Regions from separate parts of the Homo sapiens genome. Here region 2 is linked to region 1. Evidence: fine-mapped QTL for protein levels in blood plasma. A gene starts in region 1. The other region holds a variant in brackets. All regions are shown on one strand. Distances are between the middles of the regions. Region 1 holds the start of OSMR (oncostatin M receptor). Region 2 overlaps OSMR (oncostatin M receptor).

Region 1 (16,080 bases):
TCGGCTCACTGCAACCTCCAGCTCCTGGGTTCCAGCGATTCTCCTGCCTCAACCCCTGGAGTAGCTGGGACTACAGGCATGCATGAGTACGCCTGCTAATTATTGTATTTTTAGTAGAGACAGGGTTTCACCATATTGGCCAGGCTGGTCTTGAACTCCTGACCTCAGGTGATCTGCTCGCCTCGGCCTCCCAAAGTGCTGGGATTACAGGGGTGAGCCACCATGCCCAGCCTGTCTTCTTTTTCAAAACAAACATTTACAATTTTATGTTTAGGCATCATGTTCCATGATCTTATGATAGGAAGATAAGTTCTTATAATTATTTGTGGTTTGAGAGCTAAGAAAATTTATATAATAACATTTCTTTCTTTCTTGGGTGTGCTATCATTTTCTCTCTTAGCTTGGTTGCTTCGTATTAAATTTGAATAAACATGTTTCCCTAGCCTGTTCTCCATATATTTCCCGTGGGAGTATGAAAACTATCTGACCATTATTCCAAAGTGACTAAGCATCATAGGCCACAGTATAATTGGACAAAAGGAGCTACATTTAAGTAGCTGATAAGATTGAGTATAAAAGTGAGTGCTTTTAGGAAGTTTTTGTTTTAGTGTACATGGAGGTAAGTTAAGCACAAATAAGGTAACAAACATAAAGGTATAGCTTACTGTAACTCACTCAAATGAATTTTGTGTTTAGCATTTGAACAAAGTTCAGAGGAAATCCAAGAATGCATTTAACTATTCTCTTTTTTTGATTAAAATTCTTTCCTTTGTATTATAGTGGTATTAATATTTATTTAAGCCTTCATTCTAAAGTGATGTTCAGCCATAATAGATTAACCGTACCTGATTTCAGAAGGTTTTTACTCAATTTCCAGATTTAGGTCTATGCAAATGTATTTCAATCTTCTGAAAAACTGGGTTGCATCCAAAAGAATGTTCTACTGGAGAGAAATCTAATTTAGCAAAGGAAACAGTTCATACTAGCTCCTCCCAATAACCTAGCCACTTAGCAGATATAACTACAATTGCAGGGAGTGCTACTTTCAGCCATTGCTGAGTAGCTCTGTTTAATTGACTGCCCCTCCCCAACATATAACAATATAAAACACTAGAAAAATATTGTTAAAAATTAAAAACAATTATCGGCAGTGGAGAGTGACCAACACCAGGCAGATTGTGGAGGAAAGTCAACACTTGGCAGAGGAAAGGCATGGAGCAACTTTCCCAAATTTTATGACCCTCAGCCCAAGACTAGTGCATGTCTGTGCAATGTGAGGTAGCTAAAACTCTGTTAGAAAATATGCAATATTTCTAGTTTGAAGAACCAGGGGTCAGGGTTCACAGCAACAACATTATTTGGAAAGTGAGGCGGGAAAACATAAAGGAGGGAGCAAGAGAGGAAGAAGCCCAAATTCTGTATTTAAAATAAATACCAATTATTGGATAATCTCTGAACCATGCTTGTGCAAGGCAAACTCAAAGCAGCCTGGTCAACATTAAAAAGTGAATTCAGATTTGAGCTTCTACTTACTGTAAGCAATATCAGGTTTGCAGTTTGAGTTTAACCACACTGCTTGCCATTTTAAAAGATAATCAGTGTCATTGGAGGAATAGAACAGAATCTTCATCACATAATATTTATAACGCACAGGTTGCACTCCAAAATTATTTGACAATCCAAAAATAGGTAAATAAAAAAAACAGGAAAATGTAATCCATTCTTATAAAAGAAAAAAATCAGTGGAGATTGACTAAAAGATGATGTAAATATTGGAATAATGAAGCAATGTTTTAAAAGCAGCAACTATAATAACTATGCTCAATGAAGCAAAGGAAAATATGTTCATAATAATAAAAAGAATAGGGACAACCAGTATAGAAATAGACAATATATTTTAAAAGAACAGATTGAAATTCTAGAACTGAAATATACCATATATATGACACAAAATTTACTAGATGGATATAATAGCCCAACGAATATAACACAAAAGGAATTTGTAAGCTTAAAGATAGTTCAATAGAAATTATTGAATCTGAAGAGCACAGAAAAAAAGTTGAAAAACAACAGAGGCTCATGGGCATTTAGGACTATATTAAGGGGTCTGACATACTTGTAGTCGGAATTTCAAAAAGATAAGAAAGATAATGGTGCAGAAAAGGTACTAAAAAGATATACAGGCTGAAAAATTCTCCAATTTGGTAAAAGACATAAATTTATAAATTCAAGAAGCTTAGCAAATGCCAGGCAGGGTAAATAATAATTTTAAAACTTCTAAGCACATAGTTGATAAACTATTGACAATCAAAGATAATGAGAAAATATTTAAACCAGAGAAAAAATGACACATTATATTGACAGAGGAAAGAAGAATCAAATAATGGCTGACTTCTCATCAGAAGCAATGAAAGGCAGTAAAATGTAGAACAGTATCTTTAAATAGTTGAAAGAAAATAGAATTCTATCCAACAAAAATATTCCTTGAGGACGAAGTGAAATAAAGATATTTTCAAATAAAATAAGACTAATACTATGTATCTCCAATAGACTTCCAATAAAAAATATACTAAAGTAAGTTTGTTAGGCTTACAGAAATGCTACCAGAGAGAAGCTTAGATCTTTGGGAAGGATTTAAGAACATTAAAGGTAAATATGTGTATAAATATAAAAGAGTAGTTTTCCTCTTAATTTCTTTAAAATACATACTATATTGTGGGTTTTATCTTGTCTGTAGATGTAATACACTTTACAACTATAGTGTAAAGGATGGGGTGTGTGGTTAAATGGACCTATTAAGTGAAAAGGTACAATACTATTTCAAGTACACAGTGAAATTTAAGAATGTACACTGTAATCCATAGAGAAAACATTAAGACATCATGCAAAGAGAAATAAGAAAAAGACAAAGGCAAATAAAAATGAAATTTAAAAAGCGTTCAAAGGCAGATATGGTGGCTCATGCTTGTAATATCAGCTACTTGGGAGGCTGAGGCGGAAGGATCGCTTAAGGTCAGGAGTTTGAGACCAGCCTGGGCAATGGAGTGAGACCCCAACTCTAAAAAAATTAAAATGGAAATATAAAAAGATAAAAAGTATTTATATAGTCCAGAAAAAAAAGAAGAAAAAGAAGAATAAAAAAACAAAACCAGAGAGAACAAAACACAAAACCTATAGTAAAATGGTAGGCTAAACACAAGCATATCAATAACTGCCTTAAATATAAGTCTACTAAACACTCTCTATCAAATTAAAATGCAGAGATTGTCAGTCAACTTCTAAAAAAAAGTCTCAACTATATGTTTTCTGTAAGAGATTCAGTTTAAATATAAACACAACTATAGACTTATTTCGGATCAACCTTAAGCCAATAGTTTTCAAATATCCAGAAAGTTCCCATCTAATTCTCTCCAAAGTATTTCTCTCTCACTGTATTAATGTTCTAAACTTTAGCATTAACAACTGCACTCAAATTTAGTAAGTGCCATAACCACAGGCCAAGAGAATAAAAGCAGCTATCAATATTCAATATTTTCCCTAAAGTCCCTGAGGGAAAAAAAGTAAAAGATCCAGGGAGGTTCTCCTCATTGTCTGGTTTCTGATGACTTCTGGAAGAAGGTGTGAGCACAATTACAACATCTGGAAGAGGGTGGAATGTGCAAAATCCATCCATCAATCAATCAATCAATTTTCAGATAATATCTAGTTTAATCAAGGAATTCCTGTAGAATTATTGTGGATAATATTATTCATCACTTAAGAGATTTTGAAAGAAAAGCAATTCATCATTAAGTAATTATAGGGAATTCCTAAAATGATAAAATGAGAAAGTCCCACATAGTCTTCTTACGCTCAACATCTTGCTTTGTCATTGCAGTGCCACTTTTTTGGATATTTAGAAGTGTTAGATGTGTAACTGCACCAGACCAGTCTGGTTCAACTTTTTTTTTTTCTTCCAATTTTTATTTTAGGTTCAGGGGGTAGATGTGCAGGTTTGTTATGTGGGTAAGTTGTGTGTCAAGGAGGGGATTGGTGTACAGATTATTTCATTACCTAGGTAATAAGCATAGCACCTGATAGGTAGTTTTTCAATCCTCACCCTCCTCCCTCCAGTAGGCTTTGGTGTCTATTGTTCCATCTTTGTGTCCATGTGTATTCAATGTTTAGCTCCCACTAATAAGAATATGCAGTGTTTGGTTTTCTGTTCCTGTGTTAATTAGCTGGTTCAACTTTATGGTTCACCATTTATATAGCGAAGCTGTGAGTTGTTTTTTAGTTGCCATGGACCCCCAGGTTGAAGGTCATGTAACTTGAGGAGGCTCAGATGAACTAAGAATGCAACCATGGGCAGAACCTAAATGCTTGGATCACTAAATTAAGAAGTGGACACCACATGGCAGGATCCAGGATCCAATGAGATTGCGCCCTGGTGTCACCTCATGGCAGGATCTAGTCAGATGGTGCCTCCCAGCCTCACCTTATTGCAAGATGCAATCAGGTCATGCCTTGTTACCCTCTGGCTATAAAACCTGACCCAAGTGCCAGGTGGGGACACAGATTTGAGCCAGACCCGTGTCCTTGCTTGGTAGCCTTGCAATAAATTTTTCATGCTATGAAAACCGAGTGTTTTGGTGTTTGGCTTTCCATTGCACAGTGGGCAAATGGACCCAGTTCAGTTCAGTAACAGATGTCCTTTAATTAATCAAGCTTTATGATAAATTTCAGATTAAATTTTTTTTTGGAAGACCTGTTTAGCTTTCCACAAAATAATTATTTCCACAAAATAATTTTAATTTCCAATAACTTTTTTTTAGAAATAAGGCCAATATCACCACCAATAATAATCACAGAGGCACGCGTTAAGGCCTAAAAGTGAATCTTTAAGATGTCAATGTCAGCTGGGCACTGTGGCTCACATCTATAATCCCAGAAATCTGGGAGTCTGAGGTGGGTAAATCACTTGAGCCTAGGAGTTCGAGACCAGCCTGGAGAACATGGCAAAACCCTGTCTCTATAAAACATACAAAAATTAGCCAAGCATGGTGGCGCGTGCCTGTAGTCCCAGCTGCTTGGAGGACTGAGGTGGGAGGATTGCTTGAGCCCAGGAGGCGGAGGTTGCAGCGAGCCGAGACTGCACCACTGCATTCCAGCCTGGGTGACACAGACCCTGTCTCATTTAAAAAGAGTCAAATGTGATAATATGCCAACAAAACAGAATTCTACAGAACTTGTCGATGAGGGTAATTGTAAACCATTATCCACTGCTTAGGTGATGAAGTCACTTTCTTCACAAAATCCCCGATACCTTCAAATTCCATCAGTTGGTAACAAAATGCTGCCATCTTGTAATTATAGCTATTTACAGTAGTGGAATAAATAGAATCATAATTATATTTCACAATTTACATAGCTGATTTCATAGATGTATGTAAACATAGATATAGAGATATAGACAAATATAATGTTCCTGACAGTTATAGAACTATTTTTCCTCTGAGAAGTTAGATAGGTTGGCAATACATTCCACTAATCCCTCCTCCATAATAGTTATACATATGAGACTTTCTGATGGAAGATGGAAGATGAAAGAGGATGGATCGAGAATCATTCCCAGGGTTTTAACTTCAGTGTCCAGAGGACACTAAATGAAGGCTGGCCCATTAACTTAGTAAAGGTTAAAGGCTGGACCATTCACTTAGTATAATAAAATCAAGTGAGCATAACTGAAGTTTGAATTCGGGCATACTAATTTCAAAGTACTGTCTGGAGTGCAGATGAAATCATTGCAATGGAAAGGAAGAGCTGAGAGCCATCAAGGCACAAGTGATCATTGAAATCCTGGATGTGAATATGATTATTCAGGGGGCCCTGGGGCCCTGGGAAACACCAACATGTAGGGGGCAAGTGGAGAACAAGAAGTCCAAAAATATGAGGGAGGAGGAAGTCAGGGAAATGAAAGAAGAATGGAGAGAGTATTGCTACTGAAATCAAAAGGAAGAGAGAACGTCAAGAAAGAGTGTTTAATGGGCCGGGCGCGGTGGCTCACGCCTGTAATCCCAGCACTTTGGGAGGCCAAGGCAGGAGGATCACGAGGTCAGGAGATTGAGGCCACCCTGGCTAACACGGTGAAACCCAGTCTCTACTAAAAATACAAAAAAATTAGCTGGGCGTGGTAGCCGGCGCCTGTAGTTCCAGCTCCTCGGGAGGCTGAGGCAGAATGGTGTGAACCCAGGAGGCGGAGCATGCAGTGAGCTGAGATCGTGCCACTGCACTCCAGCCTGTGTGACAGAGCAAGACTCCGTCTCTAAATAAATAAATAAATAAATAAATTAAAAATAAAAACACACACACAAATAAAAAAATAAAAAGAGTGTTTAACGAAGCAGAATAATATGTGCCTTGGCCACACAATCTTATCAAAACTAAGCAAGGATGGATATTTTAGCTCTTAGCTTAATAAGCCATTGGTATTTTTCATCTTTTTCCTATTAGTTATTTTCAGGATAATTGTTTAAAACTAACTTATGGAACATAACCTATGTATCAGTTTCCTAAGGCTGCCATAACACATTACCACAAACTTGGTGGCTTAAAACAACAGAAATGTATTCTCAATCTGGAGGCCAGAAGTCTGAAATGAAGATGTTGGCAGGGCTAGCTTCTTCTTAGGGGTTCAAAGGGAGCCTGTTCCGTTCCTCTCTCCTAGCTTCTGGTGGTGGTCAGCAACCTTGCCATTCCTTGGCTTGAGTCAGCATAAGCAGGATCTGTCTCAGTGGTCACACAGTGTTCTTTCTGGGTGTCTGTGTCCAAATTCCCCCCTTTTCAGAAGTACAGCAGACACTGGATTAATCTTATATGACCTCAGGTTAACTTGATTAAAGCTGCAAAAACATTATTTCCAAATAAACTGATATTTGGAGGTTTTGGGTGGATCTGACTTTATGGACCCAGTGCACCCACTGTTAAGGGTATAATCGCGAATTTATATGGTGCTACTGCATCTAGATTCTAGAATAACGTATAAATTTAAGAAATTAGAATGGTGCAAAAACAGATAAATTATATGTGGGCACCAAATTTTTACACTTCAGTCTCCTTCAATTGCAATAGGAGCCCAAAATAAGCCTCACTTTTTAGAAATTCATACTGGGCTGAATATTTTTATTTGACATCTCATTTGCTAGAAGAGAGATCCCTTTTAACTGTTTCTATAAAGAATAATTTTTTTTCTCAGTAAAATATAAAATCATAAAGACTTTCCAACTCTTGGGCTTGGCAGTTTCCATAACCATGCAGATGGCTAAACTAATGGACTCTTTAAAACTCTTCAAGTAATGAGAGGTGTGGCAAAGGACCATACATTTATTGAGACAAAAATACATTTTATTATCATCAAATATTTACTATGCATCATGGTCTTTGTGGCCCCATTAGGTATTAAGTGTATTAGGGCCTTTAGGCCTTTGTTTTAGGAAAAATAAAAAAACAAAAGGACTCTCAGCTTTCCTTGGGATGACATTGGGGAGGAGCCAGATATGTGAACAAACACAAAAGTAACATTTTAAAATAATTCTGACATTATTTTGAGTCATCCAGTCAATTCAATATAGGATTCTAAGATATGTTTATGGTCGATACTTGTTGATCACTCTTGGTTCCCTCCCCCACCCCCCTCCTACAACCTTGCTTTTGTGATACTTTCCAGGGTCCCCAAACTCAAACCAAACTAGGCTCAGCTGATCTGGAGCAAGGCCCCTTGCCTGCTGATTTGTCAGGCATCCAGACAGGCGAGGCTATGGGAGCTCCCGGTCCGAGGCTGCCTCGGAAGGCTCCTGTTATCCTCTAAGAGAGGTGAAATGCACCTTTCAAAGGCCCAGACACGGTAAAGATTGGATGGCATTTTTGGCCGGGCGCAGTGGCTGACGCCTGTAATCCCAGCACTTTGGGAGGCTGAGGCGGGCGGATCACGAGGTCAGGAGATCGAGACCATCCTGGCTAACACGGTGAAACCCCGTCTCTACTAAACATAGAAAAATTAGCCAGGCGTGGTGGCGGTCGTCTGTAGTCCCAGCTACTAGGGAGGCTGAGGCAGGAGAATGGTGTGAACCCGGGAGGCGGAGCTTACAGTGAGCCGAGATCGCGCCACTGCACTCCAGCCTGGGTGACACAGTGAGATGCCGTCTCAAAAAAAAAAAAAAAAAAAGGTTGAAGATTGGATGGCATTTTTAAGGGGAAAAGTAAACCATGTGTAGCATGTCGTAGCATTGGGAAATAAAGGTTTCGGGACTGTTGTAGCCGAAGAAACTTTGTCGGACAGGGCGTTTCTGGATAGAACGCGAGTAGGGGAAAAATGGGGACCGTTTGATTCGGTTCAAACACGTTTTCGTTGCTCTGGACGCCAAATGGAAACACGGCCAAAATTTAGTTAAAGGACTTCTCTTGCCTGAAGATTTTCGGACGGGGATCTCACGGGTTTGGCCTCTGGGTTGGGATGACAAGTGCCCCTGTGGGATACACAGCCCCAGGCCTCATCGGTCACTCGGCTTACCTCTGGTTCCGCCGGCTGGCCCGTGCGTCCTTGGCCGGGGCAGGAGCAGCGCTGCGCGCGGGGCACGGAGCCTCGGCCGCCGAGTTTTCGGTTTCCAAGTTTCCTTCCCAGGCCTCTCCCACTTCCTCTTCTCACCAGTGCCCGCCCGCCCGCAAAGTCCGGGTTGTGAGGCTGCGCCTCCCCCAGGATCGCGGCCGCCTCCCCCCGGGACTGAAGGGAGGGAATTCCTGTGGGTCCCAGGAGTGCCAAGAGTGCGCAGCAAGACGGGAAATTGCAAAAGACCTCACCCCTCTGCCCTCCCCCGCGGTTTTCCAGTAACTCCCGCCCCTCCGCGCTTGCCCCGCAGCTGATTCATAGCCCCGGCCCGGGCCGCCTCTGCACGTCCGCCCCGGAGCCCGCACCCGCGCCCCACGCGCCGCCGAGGACTCGGCCCGGCTCGTGGAGCCCTTCGCCCGCGGCGTGAGTACCCCCGACCCGCCCGTCCCCGCTCTGCTCGCGCCCTGCCGCTGCGCCGCCCTCGGTGGCTTTTCCGACGGGCGAGCCCCGTGCTGTGCGGGAAAGAATCCGACAACTTCGCAGCCCATCCCGGCTGGACGCGACCGGGAGTGCAGCAGCCCGTTCCCCTCCTCGGTGCCGCCTCTGCCCAGCGTTTGCTTGGCTGGGCTACCACCTGCGCTCGGACGGCGCTCGGAGGGTCCTCGCCCCCGGCCTGCCTACCTGGTGGGTGAAAACTAAATGATTCATTCCTTACAGGCCGCACAGTGCCGAGTCGCCCATTTCTCAGACTGTTTGAAATTCACCATCCCAGCGCCTTTTTCTCAAATGATGGTGGAATGTTTGTTGAGTGGAAAATTCCCACTTGAATCCCTCTTTCCTCTCTCCCAACACATCGTGTGGAGGAGTTCATTGCTTCCCCTACCTCTCCTCTCGTAACCCTTGACTCCCACCTGAGAGAGCCATTTTTCTGGGAATCCGTGTATCTCTCCCACCTGGTCCCTAGCGTAGAAGCGGGAGGAGCTCAAGCACAGGTGGAGAGAGGAATCCCCGGGCGACTCTGCAATAGCGTCCGTCCGGGGCGCTTACCTTCTTCTCCAGCCACTTGAGTGGAAGTGGCCCTCTACATTCTGGAAACCTAGGCACGGAGGGGTTCAGTAACTTGTCCAAGGCCATATGGCTAGCTGTGAGGGCACTGAAATCCGAGCCCGGCTCTCGCAGGCCAGGGCTTTACCCCTGACACCGCGATTCCTTTCTCGATAGTTCTTCATCTGCCCTTCATCCACCTACCCATGCATGCCTGCATCCGTCCATCCATCCTGCCTGCCTTGCTGCGGGAGGCACAGTGCTAGGTGCTGCTGATGGAGTGGCTTGGTAACAGACCTGCCTTGAAAACACTTTGGGAACAAGATATTCAAGAGAAGTAAATGGAAGGGTCTATGAAGGCAGAGAAGATAGAATTGAATGTAGGATACTTAGTTTGAGCTAGAAGGAATTCTGATGGAGGAGAAAGAAATTTTTAGGTTTTATTCCCAAGATTAAAACTGACTTTGGAACATGGGTCAAACTACTTATCACCTCTTAGTTTCCTTGTCTGCAAATAATAATGGTTCATACTTACTGTGAACCAGCCCCTATTCTAAGCACTTGACATATGCTAGCTCATTTAAGCTTCACGGGTGAGGCGGGTACTAGTTTTTTATTATATTTTATTGAGGAAACTGAGGCCCAAAGAGGTTTTGTAACTTTTCTAGGGTTACACAGCTAGCAGGTGACAGTATCAGGATTTGGGTTTGGAGTCTGCTCATGATCACCGTGCTGTAGCTCAAACTCTAAGACTGGGTGGGGTGTTTCATTATGGTCTTGCTTTGTCTCTCTCCTGGGCTGCTTTAAAATGCACTCAGAGCCCTTGATGTCCCCAAACTCCGCTGTGTCTGAGAATCATTTCTTGAGCTTTCAAAGCATCAAACTCCAAACACAGCCTTCTATTCAGAATCTTCAGGAAATACTCAGTTTGTTTTCCCCGTAGCATTTGTTCAGTGCCTCCAGTGGCAGGAAGCTCACCACCTCACATTTTATTGTAGGAAGAGCTAGTTCTCTGCTGTAAATTGCCTCCTTGTGACTTACATCTTGGTCCCAGTTCCCGTTTGTCCCAGCAGGTGTGGCTAAGCCTTTTGTATCAAAGGTGGCTTTGAGAGAAAAAGGCTGGTCTTGGGTGTTTCTTCCGCAGGGACCCGAGCCGCATTGGGGAGAACACATAAACACTGGTTCTTTCCCCCTCTACCCTTTTCTTTAACCTGAACAGACCAGGAACACATGCAGAGGTGTTCCTGGATCTCTCATGTTTTTGTAACCCTTTTGTCCTGAGGACAAAACCGAATCAGGAGAACTGTTACGGTTTTCAAAGGGGAATCAGTGGTACTGTATTTAACAAGAAGAAGGTGTGTATTTTCCTTGTGGGAAAGGACTGGGGCATTCATTGGCTGCAGTAGAAGAGAATCTTAGTGAGTGTGGTCTTGCTCACTTACAGGAACTGTGAGCCTTGGCCCTCCTTTCGCTGGGGGAGAAAATCCTTCTTGATTGCTTAAAAAATGTGTAAAATGGGGGGAAAAAAACCCAAACCAAAACAAATAGAATATCATGGCCTTGCTGGAGAAATCCCCTCCTCCAAGCAGGCTTCTTTGTAGCTACATGAAGAGAGAATTTCTTTTCCAACAGCTGTGTTGGTGGCTTCATAGCCTTCCTTCCCTCCTCATTTTAGTTGTACTGGTCGCTCTGCATTTGTGCACTCCACGTTGTATTCTATTTTTGTGTTTTAAAAATAATACAAATAATAACAACTCATTCTCACTCAATATAGAAGTGAAGTGAAATGTAGACGTGCCATCACCATCCTCCCTCCTCCCACTCAGAAGAGGGAAGGTTAAGTTTGATAATACCATTCTAAGGCTTGTTTTTCTTTTCTATAGTTTTACATAATACATACATATACATATGTTTTAAATATGCAAATTATCTTACTATACTTATTGTACAGCTTGCTTTTTCACTTTCCAAGTCTTAGAGATCTTTCCATTGTCTCTAGATACCTCTTTTGTTAATGGCTACGTGTTATTCTTTTTGTGTGTGTGTGAGATGGTCTCACTCTGTCACACAGGCAGAAGTGCAGTGTCATGATCATGGCTCACTGCAGCCTCGACCTTCTGGGCTCAAGTGATCCTCCCACCTCAGCCTCCTGAGAAGCTGGAACTACAGGCACATGACACCACACCTGACTTTTTTTTTTTTGTATTTTTTGTAAAGATTGGGTCTCTCCATGATGCCCAGACTGGTCTTGAACTCCTGGGTTCAAGCAGTCCACCTGCCTTGGCCTCCCACAGTGCTAGGATTACAGGCGTGAGCCACTGCGCCCGGCCAGCTACATGTTATCCTAAAGTAGAAATAGAATGTAATTTATCCATCCTTTCCTATATTGATGGACATTCAGCATTAGCAACGTTGCTTCAGAGCAGATCACACATTCATCTTCCTGCTCAAGTGTGAGTATTTCTGTGGAAGAGAATCTGAGGAGAGGTATTCCTGTGTCAAAGGGTTTGCCCCTTTTTCCACTTGATAGATACGAAGTGGAAGGTAACGATGTAACTTAATATTTTTGTAAAGTTTTAGACAGCTGATCCAATAGCATTTATTTAATAATTCATCTTTTTTCCAACTCATTTGAAATTCTGTTTTTATCATTAAATAAATTCCTGTTTGTAAAAGGGTCTGTGTCAGGATTCTATTCTGTTTCATTGATCTTTTTTTTTGTTTGTTTTTCCCTAAACCAATATTACTCTGAGTTAACTACTGTAGCTTTATAGTGTTTTTGAAAATCTTGTGGTATATATTTGTGCTTTTTAAAACAACTTTTTTTATAAATCACATACATTTTCTCTTTACAAATAGCCTGTCAAGTTTAATAAAATCCTATTTTTAATTAAGATTTTATTGAGTTTATAATTGTTAGCAATTTTTAATGCTTTAATGTCCACTTTGGTATGAGCTCCAAGCTTTAAGGAAACTGTGTCATGTGAACTTTGGTTAATGACTTATCTGATTTCAAATATTGGCTACACATCAGATTAACTGGGTCAGTTTGGATAAATTACTTGTCAACTTTCTTATCCTTAATTTCCTCCTCTGTGAATGGGAATAATAATATAATCCTTTTCTTAGCGCTGTTGTGAGGATTCAATTAATAAATGCATGTACGTCACTTAGCAAAGCACCTTGTAGAGAGTTAGTATCTTATACATGCTAGCTGGGATCTTTTTCATATTTATATCCTACTCATGGTTTTGCAGAGTGCCCTATTGGTAATAGGAACCAGTAAATATTTCCTTTATTTATTGGTAGTATCCTAAGAGACAAAAATATATCATATATTTTAAATATAGTAGTGTTTCTCAAACTTGAATGTGCATATGAATCACCTGAGGATATTATTTAAATGCAGATTCAAGAGGTCTAAGGTCTGGCCTGAGATTTTGCATTTCTGACAAGCTACCAGGTGATGTCAATACTGCTGGTCCTTTGTCCACATTTGGGTGTACAGTCTTGTACAACTATTTAAATTTATGCTGCTAGTGATAGTACTTCCTATTTGTAATGAATATGATTGAAAGCATTTTTAAATTGATTTCTTTTAAAATTACATGCTAAAGAACTAAATTATAGTTGTTTTCCTTTCTTCCTTCTTCTCTCCCTCTCTTCCTTTATTTTTGTTAAAAGAAAGAGGGTTGGTGAGATCGCTAAATAGAATACCTAGCTCTGTTCTTAGATCTAGAGTCATTGAGGCAATTAACTATCTGGATTATTTTAAACTGTTGACTTAAGATGAAGACAGTCATATAAAATATATGCAGCCTGAATATGACATTTAATGTCAACTAAAGAAAAGCACAATTGTAAGTGGCTTCTGCAAATAGAAAAATGTAAGACATAAAGAACACTTGGAAAAATGTAAGACAAAATAATTCTCAGAAAAGAGTGATTGAGGTTTCATTGTTCATGTGTAATGCCAGCTTTTGAGAAGATGTGCATCAACAGAAGTTACGCTTTCTTGTGAGTAAATTTTTCATACACCGTGGTATTTCTTGGTCACCTCTTTCTACTTTCAATCTCCCTAATGGGGGATTTTGAGCAAATTTACTTCATATATATACTTCAGTGTGTCTGTCTGTCAGCCGGGGATGGTAGTATGATTTTTCTACTCAGGACACTGGTTACTTTTTGCATTTGGAAATAGATCATTAAAGTATCTACACTCTCTCAGAACCTAAGAGGTTACATTTTCTGTACAGAAAAACACGGCATCCTCCCAGGCTGATCCAGTAGGTAAAAACTGCCAACCTTTTTCAAGTCTGTTCAATACCATGGGTTGGACTGGAAACACAAACACTGTCAACTAGTTTAATCATGTTGGGATATATGGTTTCAAGTGTGGAAATAAGGAAATTGCCACTTGCACAAGACTGAGCTTAATATGTTTAAAACATGCACACACACACGTTTTAAGGAATGCTTTATGTTGCAGAACTGTATAACTTAAAGTGAGTTATCTATAATTTCTCTTATTCTGCCCACCTCCCTCCCTCCATCTCAGCTCTAAATTTATAACTTAGTAAGTGGGTGTGTCTTTGGGGCTGGTTTGGATCCCTCAAGTAGAAGAGAGCAAGCCAGAAACACATGTGCAAGAGATTTACTGGGGGAAGGACTTGTAAGGGGAAAGGGAGTAACTGTAGGCACAGAGCCTTCAGACCCAGTGCAGGTGTGATGCCTGTGGAAGGAGATGGGGAGGAAGGAAGGTGGGAAGGAGTTGCTTCCAGCTGCAGCCATTGGGTGGGAGCAGCCTGGGGTGTGTGAATCTTCCACAGATCTGAAGGGGCAGTGTCTGAAGGCTGTCAGTCATCTACGCTCTCTTGAAGGGAGCACTGAGGGGCACAGCTGCACACTGCCACAGTTCTCTTTCAGAGATGTTCTTAGGTATATACTGTTTTGAAACTGACTTATTCACTGATGTGGTTTGGCTGTGTCCCCACCCAAATCTCATCTTGAACTGTAGCTCCCATAATTCCCTCATGTTGTGGGAGGAACCCAGTACGAGATAACGGAATCATGGGGGCAGTTTCCCCCATACTGTTCTCGTGGTAGAGAATAAGTCTCACGAGATCTGATGGTTTTATAAGGGGAAACCACTTTCACTTGGCTCTCATTCTTCTCTTGTCTGCCACCATGTGAAATGTGCCTTTCTCCTTCCACCATGACTGTGAGGCCTCCCCAACCACGTGGAACTGTGAGTCCATTAAACCTCTTTCTTTTGTAAATCACCCAGTCTCTGGTATGTCTTTATCAGCAGTGTGAAAACAAACTAATACATTCACTCAATATTTTAGAATATTTTTCCATGTCAGTGCATGGATCTAGTTCATTCTTTTTAACAGTTGCATGTTGTTCCTTTGTAGAAATGCACCATAATTATTTTTCTGTTCTTTTTGAAAGGCTCTTGGATTTTTATTTTTTCCCTCATGTACACAGTGCTATAACAGTCTTTAAACACATTTGCGTACAACATGTGCAATACTCTGTCTATCATCTGTAGGGCAAAATTTCAGCAATAGAATTACAGAATGATTTCTGGATCAAGAGAAATACACATAGAATTTTAGTAGATGTGGTCAAATGGACCTCTGTAAGGTTGTATGCTTTGATCATTAGTGAGTCACAATGCTTATTTCTGTAAACTCTTACCAATGTGAGGTATTAAGACCTTTTTAAACGTTACCAATTGGATACTACATAGACATACACAGACATACACACACACACAATTGTCTTTAATTCTTAGTGATCTTGCCAAGTTTTTTGTAGGGAAGGGTGATATTTGTATTTCCCTCTTTTCATGAATTATGTATTCATGTTTTTCTACAGAGTTGTATGCCTGTTTTTACTTATTTCTAAGAACTCTTTGTATATGAGGGATAGCTCTTTGTGATACATATTGAAACTATTGTTTTCATTTTTTTTTTTTTTTTTTTTTTTTTTTTTTGAGACGGAGTCTCACTCTTTCGCCCAAGCTGGACTGCAGTGGCGCTATCCTGGCTCACTGCAAGCTCCGCCTCTTGGGTTCATGCCATTCTCCTGCCTCAGCCTCCCGAGTAGCTGGGATTACAGGCGCCCACCACCACGCCCGGCTAATTTTTTGTATTTTTTAGTAGAGACGGGGTTTCACCGTGTTAGCCAGGATGGTCTCGATCTCCTGACCTCGTGATCCGCCCGCCTCGGCCTCCCAAAGTGCTGGGATTACAGGCGTGAGCCACCGCGCCCGGCCCTATTGTTTTCATTTAAAGCACTAAAATGTTTCAATGTTTGTTAATCAGTATAGCTATCTTTATCATTCTTCACCCTCCCCCTACATCCTTATCTTTTTTGCTTATGAGTTTTATATCATGCCTAACAGATTATAAAACTATTTACCTATGATTTAATCTAGTACTTTT
Region 2 (8,000 bases), 63 kb after region 1:
GGTGTGGGTCATCTGTTTTAAAAGGTCCATGAAATTAATCATACACTTTTATGGTTAGGAAATGGGCCTTGAAGATTTTTTTCCCCCCAAAGAAGAACTGATCTTACTCCAGGTCAGGATTTGCTGTGCTCTGGTTTGCCTTTGTAATGGGATGCACTCACCAATGTTTCTGTCTTGTTCTTTTCTCTTTTTTCTTTTCTTCTCTTTTTTGATCAAGCAGTACAATGTTTCCATCAAGGTGAACGGTGAGTACTTCTTAAGTGAACTGGAACCTGCCACAGAGTACATGGCGCGAGTACGGTGTGCTGATGCCAGCCACTTCTGGAAATGGAGTGAATGGAGTGGTCAGAACTTCACCACACTTGAAGCTGGTATGTTCAGCCCCTGGCATTTAACCCAAAGAAGTAGGTCTTAGGAGTTAGACTGGTTTCCTTAAGAGATTTTGGTTGTACCAAAAACTAAGAGAAAAATATTTAAACAGAGGCGGGGTAGCATTTAAAAAATTAGATTAGGTGCCTCATGAGAAGTGAATGGGAAACCATCCACCTCAGACAGTTGACAGTAGTATTTTATTTATACTGCCTATCTTCTCTCTTACCTTTCATTTTCCCAAAATGGTTTCAAGCCATCACTTTGCTGGATTCACAGTAGATCTGGAGCTATATAAATTAGTATACACCTTTAATTCAGGACAGTGGAAGTGTTAATGACAAGGAAAGCATTGGTCTCATCCTAAACAACTTGAGGCCATGTTTGGAAATGTAATGACATTTGGAACCTTAATGGTTATTTGTGAGTCATTTGTTCCGGTGATGCCACACTGTGTGCCCTCTCCAGCATGCTCTGTGGCAGGGTTTCCTCAGTATTGACTGCAAACTTTTCCTGCTAAATAACTATGTCTGAGAACTCAAATGGGCCTCAGGAGATTTGATGGCCCAATCCTGCTTCCATCTCCCTCCAACTCAATGTCATAAAGGATAACTGTTGCCCATTTTACAGATGAGGCAACTTGCACCCATAACTGAAGAGATTTGCCCTGATTGCAGTTACTGAATGGTACAGACATCGTAATAATCTTAGGAGTGCAGTGGCTCACACCTGTAATCCTAGCACTTTGGGAGGCCGAGGAAGGTGGATCACGTGGTCAGGAGTTCGAGACCAGCCTGACCAACATGGTGAAACCCCATCTCTACTAAAAATATAAAAATTAGCCAGGCGTGGTGGCACACGCCTGTAATCCCAGCTACTCGGGAGGCTGAGGCAGGAGACCGCTTGAACCTGGGAGGTGGAGGTTGCAGTGAGCTGAGATCGTGCCACTGCACTCCAGCCTGGGCAACAGAGTGAGACTCCATCTCAAAAAAAAAAAAAATCATAGGAGTCAACATTTACTGTGAGCCATACATAGCTCGAAGGGCCCTCTGTGCTCCTCTCTTTTCATCCTGACAACACGCAGTAGGTGCTCTTATGATCCTCATTTTATGCCAGAGGATATCAGGGCACAGAAAGATTAAGTAATTTAACTGGTTCAGCCAGGCACTGACTGAGCTGCGACTCACGTCCAGGCAGCCTGACACCAGAGCTCCACCCTTAATCAGAGCTCAATTCTGTGTGTTCTCTCTCTTGGTGTTATTACAACCTCTAGATCTTGTTGATTCAAGTCCTGGCTATTTTAGTGCCAAAGGAAGGATTATACATATGTATTTTATTATTCTTCTTATTTGTGTATGGCAGCTGGCAGAACTCTTTCTGTCTGATTCTGGGAGGACCATTTTAAAGCAGTGACTCTAATTTGGGGGTAGTGGGCACCGCTAATCAGAATCCACACATGAGGATGGTCATTAGTCAAGTTCTGCAGGCCTCCCCGCTTCCCTGGTGGTGTCTGCCTATCCTCAAGCCCATTGAGACTCCAGTAATTTTTCCTAGGTGTACGGGTTCCTCAATAATCTTTGTTCTGGAAGGCCCTGTTCCTGAGAGGAATGTTGCATTTTCCTCAGTGTGTTTTAGAAAAGAATTTTTATTATTTTGCTTTACGTTTTCTGTTTTTTTTTTGAAAATTTATTCCAACATAACTAAAATTATGTAAAAAGGGAAGATGGCAAAAGAATAGAGTTTCTTTTAGATTATAGTAATAATCTAACATCTTGAAAACGCTTAACTTTGCTTTTGATGATGACAAGAAAATGAGATGAATCTACTGAAGGTGAACCTATAGGAATTTTTTATTACTTCTGATCACGCTTTGCTTAATGCTGGAAAACTCAAATCTTTATGTGTATTATAACCATGCTTAAGTATAATTATAGTGAGCAGACATTGAGTTAAATGAATTGATGGTATAAATGATGTTGTTTATAAAATATAGTGCTATCAACTGTATTGTAGCACTTTTTTGTTATAAATAGTAATTTACAAGCCAGCTGAAGATTTTGCATTGAGCTTAGATATTGTCCCTGAGTATTTCAATAAAGTTTTAAATTTAATATTGGCTTCTCCAATGACTTATTTAGCAAATTGAAATCTGCTTTAATAGATTTAAAAATATATGGCCACCTTTAACTTAAAGTATAAAGTGTTGAGTCAGCAACTAAAATAAAAAACTTAAATGTCAATTATTAGGCAAAAAAGATTATATTTTTATAAGATAGAGAGATACATTTTAATGTTATGTTCCAAAACAGTTCTTCTTTCAAAGAAATGTTCTGAATCAGATCAAAAATTACTTGTCCTCTCACAAACCAAAAACTAAAAAAAATAGGAAAGTTATTTTTTAATATTTGAAACACCTTAATTTTGTTAAATTTTGTTAATTTCGTGACAGTTGCTATTTAACACTTTCACACTTAGCAGCCAAAATTTTTTTAAACCATTTTAGTATGCAGAAATCATATTTAAAAAATAGAAGTTGGAGGTCCTAGCCAGAGGAATCAGGCAAGAGAAACACATCCCAAAAGGAAAAGAAGTCAAACTCTCTTTGCTGATGATATGATTCTATACCTAGAAAACCCTACATTAAGAGTGGACACAGGGAGAATGCAGAAGCTGGGCTGAAGGGTCAGGAAGCTGCATACCCTGCACAGGGCTATGAAGCACCCACACTCGTTCTTGGCCCCCAGCAACTCCTGGGGAAGGGGTTGAACAGGCGGCCTGCCCCTGCCGTGGACCTTTGGAATCCAGGCAGCAGGAAACC[C/T]CACAACCCTCATGGACAATTGGACTGGCAGGAAGAGCTTCTTAGAGAGGTAGTAGGAATAGAGCTCCATCCTGGGCAGGGCCCAGAGGGTTTGGTGCAGAAACATCTGCAGTGGAGCATGGCCAGGGACACAAATCCCCCAAGCCTTGCCTTGCTCCTCTAGGAGACTTTGGCCAAAGGGTGACCATGAGACCTAGACAGAGGAGAATGGTCTTACCCATGAGATGGGGCCAGTCCAATCTGAGTGATCCCCTGTCTGCTGGCCACTCCTGAGGCTCCAGCCTTGCCACACTAGCTGGAGTTGCAGCCTCAGATGCCCAACTATGGTGCTTCCTAGGGGACCATATCATAGCTGCTTTGCTGGCAGATGGCACCTGACCATTGGAGATTTCCAGCAGAACAGTCCCTACTGACATGCATCAGCCCACCTGCAGCCTCCCCCAACCACAGCCTACCCAATGCCACCTTGCCAGTATGCACTTGTCCATGGTCACCCCACCACCACTTTGCCAGTGCACACGTGTGGGTGGACCTTGCCTCTTCTCCTCCAATGGCTTATGTGTGCACATATCCCACTGCTGCTGTTGGCATAAGCACAACGTGTGGCCCTGCCTCCCCTGGTGCTTCCATTTCTGGTGTGAAAGAGTGCATGGACACCAGCAGCCCCACCCCCACTCCTGCTGACACTGCCACCAGCGTGAATGTGTGCATGGCCCCACAACCCCCCCAACACCATCACTGGCACAAATGCATGCACAGACACCAGCAACTCTGCCCCTACCCCTGTGCTGCCACTGTGGCTGCTGCAAACCAGCACACAGACAACCACGGCCCTGCCTTCCCAGTGCCACCACAACTGCCAATGTGAATGCATGCATGGATGCTGGCAACTCTACCCACCCCTGCACTGCCACTGCTGCCTGTGCAAACTCATGCACAAAGACTGGTAGCCTCCTGCCTCCACCACTGCCAGTACCAGTGCCAGCACTGTCACTGGCACTTCTGCCTCTGCCTGCATCCCCCCACCAGGGCAACTGCATGCAGGAACCCTGCAGCCCTACTCTCAGAGGTACCCCACCCCAGCTGATGCACATACAAACCACTGCACTGCCCTAGCTGCTGGCACATGTGAGTGAGCATGGACCCTGCTGCCACTACCCTGATGAAGTGCTTTGGCCTGCACCACTCATTGGAGTTTTGTGGCCAGCAGACTGAGATCAGTTCGGCCTCTCCAACACAGCAGGTTCCTAGCCTTGAGGGGCCAGAGAACAAAGGTGGGGGCCTGATACCAGTCCTGCAGAGTTAGAGCATGCAGACCAGGAGTGCTAAGCTGAGCTTTGGCCCCTTAAAATCTTCCAGATGGGAACCCAGTCAACTGAACCCATCTTATATCAAAATCAGATGTCCCCCAAGGACATCAAATAACATAAAACATAAAACAAAACAAAAACCCATCCAAAGGACAGCAACTTCAAAGACTAAAGGAACATCAGCCCACACAGATGAGAAGGAAAGAATGCAAGAACTCAGTGGCAACTCAAAAAGCCAGAGTATCTTCTTACCTCCAAAGACCACACTAGCATCCTAGCAATGGTTCTTAACCTGTTCAAAATGACAGAATTAGAATTCAGAATATGGATAGAAACAAAGATCATCAACATCCAAGAGAAAGTGAAAACCCAATCCGAGGAATCTAAGGAATACAACAAAATGACACAGGAGATAAAAGACAAAATGTCCATTTAAAGAAAGGATCAAACTGATCTGATAGAGCTGAATAATTCATTTCAAGAATTTCATAATACAAATGCAAGCTGAGGAAAGAGTCTCAGCTCAAAGACCAGTTCTTCAATATAACTCAGTCAGACAAAAATAAAGAAAAAAATAAAAATTATTATGTAAAGAGAACAACTCAGCCACTCATTGGTGTTCTTGAAAGAGAGGCAGAGAAGGCAAGCAACTTGGAAAACATATTTGAGGATATTATTCACAAAAATTTCCCCAGCCTCACTGGAGAGGACAACATTCAAATTCAGGAAATGCAGAGAACTCCTGTGAGGTACTATACAAGATGACCATCCCAAAGACACCATGTCTCCAAGACATAGTCATCAGATTCTTCAAGGTTGAAATGAAAGAAAAAATGTTAAAGGCAGCTAGGGAGACAGGGCGGGTCACCTACAAAGGGAACCCCATCACGCTAACAGTGGACTTTTCATCAGAAATGCTACAAGCCAAAAGAGATTGGGGCCTGTACTGAACATTCTTAAAAGAAATTCCAACCAAGAATTTCATATCTAGCCAAACTAAGCTTCATAAGTGAATGAGAAATAAGATCCTTTTCAGACAAGCAAATGCTAACGGAATTCACTACCATTAGACCTGCCTTAGAGGAGATCCTTAAGGAAGTGCCAAATATGAAAAAGGAAGTCCATTACCAACCACCACAAAAACAGACTTAAGTAATAGACCATTGACAGTATAAAGCAACCACGCAATCAAATCTGCATAATAACCAGCTAACAAGACAATGACAGGATCAAATCCACACATACCAGTATTAAACTTGAATGCGCACAGGTTACATGCCCCAATTAAAAGGCACAGAGTGGCAAGTTGGAGAAAGAAGCAAGATCCAACTGTATGCTGTCTACAGGAGACCTATATCACACGCAGTGACACCCACAGGCTCAAAGTAAAGGGATGCAGAAAAATCTACCAACCAAACAAAACAGAAAAAAGCAGGGATTGGTATTCCAATTTCTGTCAAAATTTATTTTAAACCAATAATGATCAGAAAAGACAAAGAAGGGCATTACATAATGGTAAAGAGTTCAATTCAACAAGAAGACTTAACTATCCTAAATATATATGCACCTAACACAAGAGCGCACAGATTCATAAAGTAAGTTCTTAGAGACTTACAAAGAGACTTAGATAGCCACATAATAATAGTAGGAGACTTCAACATTTTGCTGACAGTATTACATGAATTATCAGGGCAGAAAACTAACAAAGATAGTAAGGACCTCAACTTGACACTTGACAAAATGGGCTTACAGAACTCTCCACCCCAAAACAAATATACATTATTCTCATCTGCACATGGCATATACTCTAAAACTGACTTCACAATTAGACATAAAACAATCCTCAGCAAATTAAAAGAAAACCCGAAATAATACCAAACACACTCTCAGGCAACAGCACAATAAAAATAGAAATGAGTACGAAGAAAATTACTCAAAACCACCCGATTACATGGAAATTAACCTGCTCCTGAAAGACTTTTGGGTAAACAATGAAATTAAGGCAGAAATTAAGAAATTATTTGAAATTAATGAGAAGAAAGATAACAATATACCAGGATCTCTGAGACACAGCAAAGCCATGTTAAGAGTAAAGTTTTGGCTGGGTGCGGTAGCTCACACCTGTAATCCCAGCACTTTGGGAGGCCAACGTGGGCAGATCACGAGGTCAGGAGTTTGAGACCAGCTTGGCCAATATGGTGAAACCCCATCTCTACTAAAAAATACAAAAATTAGCCAGGCGTGGTGGCACGTGCCTGTAGTCCCAGCCAGTCGGGAGGCTGAGGCAGGAGAATTGCTGGAACCTGGGAGGTGGAGGTTGCGGTGAGCTGAGATTGCATCACTACACTCCAGCCTGGGTGACAAAGATCTCAAATTAACAACCCAACATCACACCTCAAAGAAGTAGAGAAACAAGAACAAACCAACACCAAAGCTGTCAGAAGACAAGAAATAACCAAAATTAGAACTGAACTGAAGGAAATTGAGATGCAAAAAACTATACAAAAGATCAACGAATCCAGGAGTTATTAAGAAGAATAAGTTTCATAGATCACGACCTAGACTAATAAAGAATAAAAGAAGATCCAAATAAACACAATCAGAAATGTTAGAGGACATTACCACTTGACCCCATAGAAACACAAAAACTCTCAGAGATTACTGTGAGCACCTTTTTGGACACAAACTAGAAAACATACAGCCTGGAAACATACAGCCTCTCAAGATTGAACCAGGAAGAAATTGAATCCCTGGACAGACCAATAGTGGGATCTGAAACTGAATCAGTAACAAAAAGCCTAGGAACCAGAGAAAGCCCAGGACCAGATGCATTCACAGCCAAATTCTGTCAGAGTTATAAAGAGCTGGTACCATTCCTACGGAAACTATTCCAAAAAAACTGAGTTGGGGGACTCCTCCCTAACTCATTCTGTGAGGCCAGCATCATTCTGACACTAAAACCTGTCAGAGACACAACAAAAAGAGAAAACTTCAGGTCAATATCCTTGATGAACATAGATGCAAAAATCCTCAACAAAATACTAGCAATCCAGATCCAGCAGCACATTAAAAAGCTAATCCACCACAATCAAGTAAGCTTTATCCCTGGGATGCAAGGTTGTGTCAGCCTACGCAAATCACTAAATGTGATTCATCACATAAACCGAACTAAAAACAAAAACCACACAATCATCTCAATATATGCAGAAAAAGCTTTTGATGAAATTCAATATCCATTCATGTTAAAAACTCTCAACAAACTACATGTTGAAGGAGCATACCTCAAAATAAGAGCCTAGATCTATGACAAATCCACAGCCAACATCATACTAAATGGGCAGAAGCTGGAAGCATTCCACTTGAGAACTGGAATAAGACAAGGATGTCCACTCTCACCACTCCTATTCAATATAATATTGGAAGTCCTAGCCAGAGCAATCAGACAAGAGAAAGAAAAAAAAAAGCATCCAAATAGAAAAAGAGGAAGTCAGAAGTCAAACTAT

The links. A credible set is the group of variants that fine-mapping cannot tell apart. PIP is the posterior inclusion probability: the model's chance that the variant is causal. Sun 2018 read protein levels with aptamers (SomaScan).
Region 2: its variant is the best candidate, but not a certain one, in a credible set for the plasma level of the OSMR protein (Sun 2018, PIP 0.53).

Annotation. Positions count from the first base shown.
Region 1 is chr5:38,837,120-38,853,199 of GRCh38, forward strand. It overlaps OSMR (oncostatin M receptor), which reads left to right and starts at 8,893. Exons shown (of 18, transcript NM_003999.3): 1 at 8,893-9,268. It overlaps OSMR-DT (OSMR divergent transcript), which reads right to left and starts at 8,710. Exons shown (of 4, transcript NR_109951.1): 1 at 8,549-8,710.
Region 2 is chr5:38,904,133-38,912,132 of GRCh38, forward strand. OSMR (oncostatin M receptor) reads left to right here. Exons shown (of 18, transcript NM_003999.3): 9 at 221-371. Among named protein-coding and RNA genes, the nearest start is that of OSMR, 62 kb to the left of the region's middle. RefSeq lists enhancers at 3,500-4,000, 4,001-4,501. The variant C/T (reference allele first, on the strand shown) is at 3,188.